3 separate regions of the Homo sapiens genome follow, and regions 1 and 2 are each linked to region 3. Evidence: fine-mapped QTL for protein levels in blood plasma. Region 3 holds a variant in brackets. A gene starts in each other region. All regions are shown on their forward strands. Region 1 holds the start of GDF2 (growth differentiation factor 2). Region 2 holds the start of WFDC1 (WAP four-disulfide core domain 1). Region 3 overlaps SERPINE2 (serpin family E member 2).

The links. PIP is the posterior inclusion probability: the model's chance that the variant is causal. The UK Biobank Pharma Proteomics Project read protein levels with antibody pairs (Olink). The fine-mapping took linkage between variants from a reference panel, not from the people measured, so its PIPs are less certain.
Region 1: it holds the start of GDF2, and the variant in region 3 is fine-mapped to the plasma level of the GDF2 protein (UK Biobank, PIP 0.98).
Region 2: WFDC1 starts here. The variant in region 3 is fine-mapped to the plasma level of the WFDC1 protein (UK Biobank, PIP 0.95).

Annotation. Positions count from the first base shown.
Region 1 is chr10:47,320,700-47,323,546 of GRCh38, forward strand. It overlaps GDF2 (growth differentiation factor 2), which reads left to right and starts at 1,755. Exons shown (of 2, transcript NM_016204.4): 1 at 1,755-2,315. The coding sequence starts at 1,970.
Region 2 is chr16:84,293,701-84,296,200 of GRCh38, forward strand. WFDC1 (WAP four-disulfide core domain 1) reads left to right here and starts at 1,178. Exons shown (of 7, transcript NM_021197.4): 1 at 1,178-1,415. The coding sequence starts at 1,272. It overlaps LOC124903734, which reads left to right. Exons shown (of 6, transcript XM_047435022.1): 6 at 633-1,138. The coding sequence ends at 1,138.
Region 3 is chr2:224,014,633-224,017,479 of GRCh38, forward strand. All of the region lies in intron 1 of SERPINE2 (serpin family E member 2), which reads right to left. All of the region lies in intron 1 of LOC124907990 (a long non-coding RNA gene), which reads left to right. Among named protein-coding and RNA genes, the nearest start is that of SERPINE2, 23 kb to the right of the region's middle. RefSeq lists an enhancer at 456-955. The variant T/C (reference allele first, on the strand shown) is at 1,149.

The DNA.
Region 1 (2,847 bases), not on the chromosome of region 3:
CTGGCCACAATGGTTTCAGATATAGGATTGTGGAGTTGGATGTGTCTCAAAATGCTAACCATGGGCATCACTGGATGATTAAATTGTAGGTTATTTATTTTCTCTTTAATGTTTTCCATTTCCCAAGTTTTCTATACTATAGACTACTGTTATAACAGGGGAAAAAAATGTCACATTTAAAAAATAACGTCAGGTAGCAGCCCCTTGCTCCTCCCTGAGCACATCCAGGCCACTAGGCTATCCCTCTGCTCAGCCTCTCGTGTGTGAAAAGCTCCTGGCCAGACCATGTTGCAGGCATCTGCCCTGTCCTCACTCCTCCCGGACCACACCTCACTCCGCATTTGCAGCTCCATTTCTTGGGCATGGCACCCATTTATTCATCTTTTCTCTGCCCCATGGAATTCTTGCACTGAGCTGGATCAAAGCCCAGCACACTTCCAGTCCTCTTCCCAAGCAGCATTTCTGAAGCAGCACGCTTCCCGTCTTCCCCTGGCCCATGTCATCAAAGGACAGAGATAGCAAGTTCTATTCAGGCCCAGCCATTCAGGGGCTCCTGATTTCACCCATCCCCCTCTGCAATCTCTGACCGCAGCATGCTGTGGCCCCTCCTGCACCCCCCTAAACCTGCTCAGCTCTCTGCAGCCTCTCCCGGACAGCCTCACCAGCATAGAATACCTTCCCCAGAGTAAACCACCAGGCACAGCATACCCCAGAGTGTTTCTAACCATGATCCTTCTTTGCTTTGCTCAAAGCCACACGTGATGGAAATGGACAGAGTCTAAGTGTGGACATACTGCTCTTAACGCAGTCCCTGGGGCCCTTTCCTGGGCCACAGCTTATCAGCCTCCAAAGGCCAGGGGATCATCTTCTTGGCATGTACCACTCTCAGAACAACCCACCTACTCCCCTGTCTACCAGATTGCGTGGTTCTCCCTGCTGATGAGTGTGGGCCAGGTGGCTGCCAGGTTGGTGTGAGCTAAGACCACCCCACAACAGACCAGTGACACAGCTGGGATGCAGGGATGTGGGGAGCTCCCCACAGGCTGCAGTGTGTTGTGGAGCTCCGACAGAGCAGGCTGGGGGAACCCAGGGCTTCCTCCCCCAGCTCCAGCTCAATCAGGCCTGGGCTGGAGAGGGGGCATCCAGAATGCAGCCACCAAGCCAGCCTGGGGCACAGCATCCTCTTAACCCCTATAACTATCTTCTGAATGGGAGGCTCCAAGAGCTGCAGTGACTTGTTCCAGGTGACATTTGCAGGGAATCGGTGAGGGAGTTGAGATCCCAGCCTGTGTCTAGTTTGACTCATCACCGCACTAAATTGCACGGGAGCCATATTCACTCGTGATCTCTAATGCTCAGCAGTGCATCCCACCAACAGAGCAGGGAGGCTTGCTGGCAGGTTCCGATTCTGCAAGGAGCAGGCCTCTTCTGAGCCCTGATGTGGTCCCCACACTCTCCCCATCTCCCCAGCCCCCACGGTTCACTGTGATCTTGTGCTGTCCTTTCTATATTTGGAGGACTACTTGGTCTTGTTTCCTGGATTCTTCACTCCTGTGGCCCAGGAGATGGAGCATATGTCACCCTGCCTGGAGATTCTTCTGAAGAGCCCTGGCAAGGAAATGAGAAAGTATCCTAATTAGGGGGCAATAACCCCCTGGAGAAGCACAGATTCTTTACAGTAGGCCGTGTCCTTCCCGCATGCCCTGTGTGTTTGTCAGATGTTTATAGAGCCTTCATTAACGGAAGGCTCCCTCAGATAAGACGTCGGAGCGCGGCATCGAGGACCAGATAAGCACAAGTGGAGGACAATCCAGCCCGGCAGCGGGTGAGAGTGGGTGCTGGCCAGGACGGTTCCTTCAGAGCAAACAGCAGGGAGATGCCGGCCCGCTCCTTCCCAGCTCCTCCCCGTGCCCGCTAACACAGCACGGCCGCCTGCAGTCTCCTCTCTGGGTGATTGCGCGGGCCTAAGATGTGTCCTGGGGCACTGTGGGTGGCCCTGCCCCTGCTGTCCCTGCTGGCTGGCTCCCTACAGGGGAAGCCACTGCAGAGCTGGGGACGAGGGTCTGCTGGGGGAAACGCCCACAGCCCACTGGGGGTGCCTGGAGGTGGGCTGCCTGAGCACACCTTCAACCTGAAGATGTTTCTGGAGAACGTGAAGGTGGATTTCCTGCGCAGCCTTAACCTGAGTGGGGTCCCTTCGCAGGACAAAACCAGGGTGGAGCCGCCGCAGTACATGATTGACCTGTACAACAGGTACACGTCCGATAAGTCGACTACGCCAGCGTCCAACATTGTGCGGAGCTTCAGCATGGAAGGTAGGGTCTCCGCTTGCACCATGCGCGCTGGGGTGGGACTCACAGGTCCACAGCTGCTTTCCCCAGGGTGGAGGCCACTGGCCATAGGAGGCTCTTCAAGCTTCCATTTAAATTAGTTACAATGAAATAAAATTAAAACTTATTTCTTTAGCCTCACCAGCTTCCTTTCAAATGCGTGGCTAATGGCTTCCCTATCAGGCAGTGCAGACTGAAGAACATTTCCATGGTTACTGAGAGTTCTACTCAGCACTTCTGTTGTGAAGGATTCACCTTCCCCAAGCTGTGTGCCACATTTCACACAGCAGGTGCACAGGGATGCCAGCTCTCTTTTTTCCACCCCTTCTCTTTACTCTCCTCTTCTTTGCATCACTCCCCTCTGATTCACTTCTCTTCCTTTCCCCCTTCCCTTCCTGTCCCCTTCCTACTTCAGAACAGAACAGGCAACCTATTTCACCTCCAACTAACTGGGATATTTTTAAATTTTCAAAGCACATCTATTCCTTTCTTATGAAACGGTTTTAAAAATCAGATA
Region 2 (2,500 bases), not on the chromosome of region 3:
ACCTGGGTTCCAGCCTCCTCTCTGCTGCTGTTGCATGACCTCAGGCAGCCCCCTCTGTTTCCTCATCTGTAAAGCGGGCATCAAAACAGTGTCTGTTTTGGGGCCGGGTGTGGTGGCTCACACACCTGTAATACCAGCACTTTGGGAGGCTGAGGCGGGCAGATCACTTAAGGTCAGGAGTTTGAGACCAGCCTGGCCAGCATGGTGAAACCCAGTCTCCACTAAAAATACAAAAATTAGCCAGGCATGGTGGCACATGCCTGTTATCCCAGCTACTTGGAAGGCCGAGACAGGAGAATCGCTTGAACCCGGGAGGCAGAGGTTGTAGTGATCTGTGATCACACCACTGCACTCCAGCGTGGGTGACAGAGCAAGACCCGTCTCGAAAAACAAAACAAAACAAAAAACCAGTATCTGTCTTGGAAGTGCTGAGAACAGACAAGGGAATATGAAGTTTGTGAAATGTTGAGCCCGCTGTGCTACATTCCTGTAAAACACACACGTGCACATGCACACCCACGTGCACACACGCATACACATAAATGCACATGTGCAGATACACCGGCTGACAGTGACAGCACACTTATGTGTGTGAAATGCTTTATGTGCTCAATTTCTTTTAAATCTCACAGGAAACACACGCTATGAGGAACTACCCACATGCCCACATCAGGCAGGAGGACCCCGGCGGGTGCAAGGGTGGAAGTCGTCTCTTCATGGCTGCACCCTTGGCCAGTGCCAGTCCAGCAGCCTCTTTCAAAGAAGCTTTTATAGGCAGATAGTTTGTCAGCCCAGCTCGAAATGTGAACAAGGTAGCAGCCGAGCCCCCACCCATCCGGCTGCACTCCCCTGCATGTCCAGCCCCGAGCCCTGTGTCAAGCACACCTCCTTGGGAGGAGACCGCCCCAGCCTGCAAGGAAGTGCTCATTATGGAGAGTGGAGAGTGACAGGCCACTCCCGGCCACGTCTCCAAGCAAGCCGGTGCCCCCTCCTCCTGCTGCCACCGCCCACTGAGCTGCCTGGGCTGCAGACGCCCTGGTTGGAGCGTCTGGGGCCAGATGTTATAGGGCAAGCTAAAAATAACCGGGCAGGCCAGCCACCATCGAGGAAGGGGCATGTGCTGGACGCGGACACATGATCCGAGGGACCCTGCTGGGTGGAACTAAGAAAGTCCAGCAGACTGTGCACGCTCCTGTCCCCACTCACAGGCCCACGCAGCGAGGGGGGCCCCTCTTCTGTGTGCGTCTGGAAGGTCGCTGCCCAGGGAGGAAATGCCTTTAACCGGCGTGGGGCCGGGCAGCTGCAGGAGGCAGATCATCCGGGCTCTGTGCCTCTTGCTACTTCTCCTCCACGCCGGCTCTGCCAAGAATATCTGGAAACGGGCATTGCCTGCGAGGCTGGCCGAGAAATCCCGTGTAAGTGCCTGGGATGGGGAGGCTGGGGCAGCCTGTGTGGGTGGGAGTCAGCCTTGAGGAGAGGCGATCCCTAGACACTGCCTTCTCCTGTAAGTGCTCCCCCAAAACGTGGCAAGGCAGGCGTCTTCCTATCCGTGTGTGTCTGAGTTGTGTGGTGGGCAGATGGGGCTCACCCCCAAAAAAGGACCCTTATCTGTGAATCAAGAGGCAAAAGACACATCACAAATGTGCCAAAGAATCGTGCCTTACTTTTGCCTTGTTACAAAAGTATGCTTGCTCCTGAAAGACAGCATCTCATTTCGGAACCCCAGGATTTAAACGGAGCATTCCGTCTCCCTGATCAGTACCAAATGTTTGTGAAATACACTTATGCATTCATGTGGTTGTTTATTCATTCAGCAAACAGAATGAATACACTCTGTTAAACAGAATTTAGCAGAAACCGCTCTGGGGAAGGCACTCTGTGGGGTCCTGTGGATACAAGATAAAGGAGGTACCAGCCCCCATCCTCAAGGGTGGCGTGGCCGAGGTGCAGAGGCAGTTGGGTGACAAACGATGGCAGTACAAAGAGAAGGCATGAGGCAGTGAGTGGCAAGAAACACATGCCCTGGGGCCAGATGTCTGGGTGTGAATCGGGCTCTGCTGCTCATTAGCTGCGTGGCTTCTCTCAGGCAAGCTGCTTGACGTCTCTGAACCCCAGCAATCTCATCTGCAAAAGACAGAGGGATGCATTTCTTCACACAACTATGTCTGGGTCGCCACTGTTTACCAGGTACTGTCCTAGGCTGTGGGGATACAGGCCTCACATCTCTGCCTGGGGAACTCAATGGGGGGCTGGGGGCAGCAAAGAATAAATGAGAGAGATCTCATTTATTAGTATGTGCAGATTGCAAGTGCTGAGGAAGCAATAAAGCAGGAAGGGAACTAGGAGAGAGAATGGGGTGGAGGAGGCTATCATTTTTGGTTCCTCCCACCCCCCAGAGATCACAGATCCGCAGGGACGGAGTGAGCCAGGACGATATCAGCACACAGAGGGCTCAAGAAGGTAATGCTGGCACCCACAGCACCTGTGTGAGGATTGAATG
Region 3 (2,847 bases):
CTGTCTTGGGTACTGCATAAGGAAACCCATATCCACCTGAATACAGAAGACTCTAGATTCTCCTGGGTCTCAAGTGCCCAACAAAACCCACTTTGTTCCTTTGAAGTCAGGGTAGCATTTCCAAGGCTGCCGTGTAAACAAGTGTCCCCTATTAAGTTGGTTTATCCCTTAATTTATCCTACAAATATTAATGAAGCACCACAGTGCCAGGCCTGGCGCTGGGATGCTAGAGAGAGAATAGGCATGAAAAGGGGCTTGGTACCTGCCCTCCCACCTCTCAGAGTCTCAAGGCATGGTTCTCCACCTGGGTGACTCTGTCGCTCAGGGAGCATTTGGCACTATCTGAAGACATTTTTTTTGGTTTTCACCACTAGGTGGGGGCCAGGGAGGGTGGTGCCATGGCATCTGGTAGGTGGGGGCCAGGGAGGGTGGTGCCGTGGCATCTGCTAGGTGGGGGGAGGCCAGGGGTGCTGCTGAGCAGCACCCACAATGCACAAGACAGCCGCCTGCAACAAAGAATTATCCAGCGAAATGTCAGTAGTGCCAAGGTTGGGGAAGCCTGGTCTAGAGGGGAAACAGACCTTAATCAAATCGTCTTATTACTTGATATTTACTTTCATTTTCACGTATTTACTTTACAAATGCTCTGACATCGAGGAGAGTGTGTAAGAATGGAAGCAGAGGCACACCTGGGCCAGGGTGAGAGGCAGTGGCCAGGGAAGTGCTCCTGGGAAGGGCCACATGGGCAGACATTGGAGGATGGACTGGAAGTGACTGGACAAAGGGGCGGAGAGATGGAAGCAAGGAAGAGTATTCCAGACAGAAGCTCTCAAGTGCAAACAAACCTTGTGTTGGGAGGTACCATGGATTATTCTGGAAATATTTTTCCTTTCATACCATCATCACCTTACAGCCTTTGCAAGACAAGGGCAACTCTGTGTCCATGACTCCAACAAATAGGCAGCTCATCAAGACATACTGCAGAACCCAACCGGACAGAAACTGGAAGAATCATTCACACTCCAGTGTCTATCTTGTTCCATGGCTCTCTTTCTCACCACCCGGCACTGCGCATGACAACAGGCAGGAATCAAAACCCTAAGTTGACATTAAAAGCCTGAGTTTCATAAAACGAAAAACTGATAAAC[T/C]GAAAAACTGATCAATTGGACCTCATCAAAATGAAAAGTTTTACTCTGCAAAAGATCCTGCAAAGATGATGAAGAGACTAGGAGAAAATATTCTCCAATCACGTATCTGTCAAGGGACTAGTATCTAGACTACACAGAAAACTCTTAAACCCCAACTGTAAAAAAAAATCGGATTAGGAAATAAAAGACATGGATAGATATTCCATTAAAGAGGATGTATAAATGGTAAATACGTCCATTAAAAGATGTTCAACATCATTAGCCACTGGGGAAATCCAAATTTTTAAAACCACAATGAGATGTCACTATATGTCCAGATGAATGGCTAATACTAGTGACAACACCAATTGCTGGTGAGGATGCAGAGAAACTGGATCACTCACACATTGCTGGTGGGAATATAAAATGGCACAGCCGCTCTAGAAAACAGTTTGGTAGGTCAGGTGCAGTGGCTCACGCCTGTAATCCCAGCACTTTGGGAGGCCGAGACAGGCGGATCACCTGAGCCCGAGGTCATGAGTTCAAGACCAGCCTCACTAACATGGTGAAACCCTGTCTCTACTAAAAATATAAAAATTAGTCAGTCGTCGCGGCAGGTGCCTATAATCCCAGCTACTCGGGAGGCTGAAGCAGGAGAATCGCTTGAACCCGGGAGATGGAGGTTGCAGTGAGCCGAGGTTGTGCTATTGCACTCCAGCCTGGGCGACAAGAGCGAAAGTCCGTCTCAAAAAAAAAAAAAAAATAGTTTGGTAGTTTCTGTTTATTATTTATTTTTTTTTAATGTAAGTTTGGCCGTTTCTTACAAAACTAAACATGCACTTAACTGTATAATCCAGCAATGCTGGACATTTATTAGAGAGAAATGAAAATCATTTCACATAAAAACCTGTATACCAATGTTCACAGCAACTTTATTTTTTAATAGTCCCAAAGTGGAAACATCCCAGATGTTCTTCAGTAGGTGAATGGCTAAACTGTGGTACATCCACACCACAGACTACTACTCAGTAATAAAGAGAAATAAACTACTGACACACAAAACAACTTGGTTGGATTTCAAAGAACTATGCTGAATGGAAAAGCCTATTTCAAAAAGATGCATAGTGTGTAATTCCATGTATATAACATTGTTGAAATGACAAAGGTGCAGAGATGGAGAATAGATCAGTAGTCACCAGAAGTTAGAGAACAAGAGAGGGAAAGGGATGTGTGTGACGATAAAAGGGAGGCATGAGGGGTCCCTGTGGTGGAAATGTCCTGTATCTTGCCTGTGGTGGTGCCCACACAAGTCCATACATGTGATAAAACTGCATAGAAGTAAATGCACACACCCCAGTGAGTACCTGTAAACCTGGTGAAATCTGAATAGGGTGGGTGGATTGTGTGATGTCAGTTTCCTGGTTGTGGTACTGTACTACAGTTATGCAAGATAATGCCTTTGCAGGAAACCAGGTAAAGGGTACACGAGAGCTCTCTGAATTACTACTTTTTTTTTTTTACGACTGCATGTGAATCTATATAACTATCTCAAAATAACAACAAAAAAACCCTACTGTAAAATTTTAGTCAGCAAACAAATGCCAATGTACCTTAAGACAGATCTTTTTATTTCTTACTTTTTCCCTGTACTGCAAATGTACAATCACACAAAAATGTAATATTTTTGGTCCTTTCAAAAAGAATAGCTACAGTTTTAGGG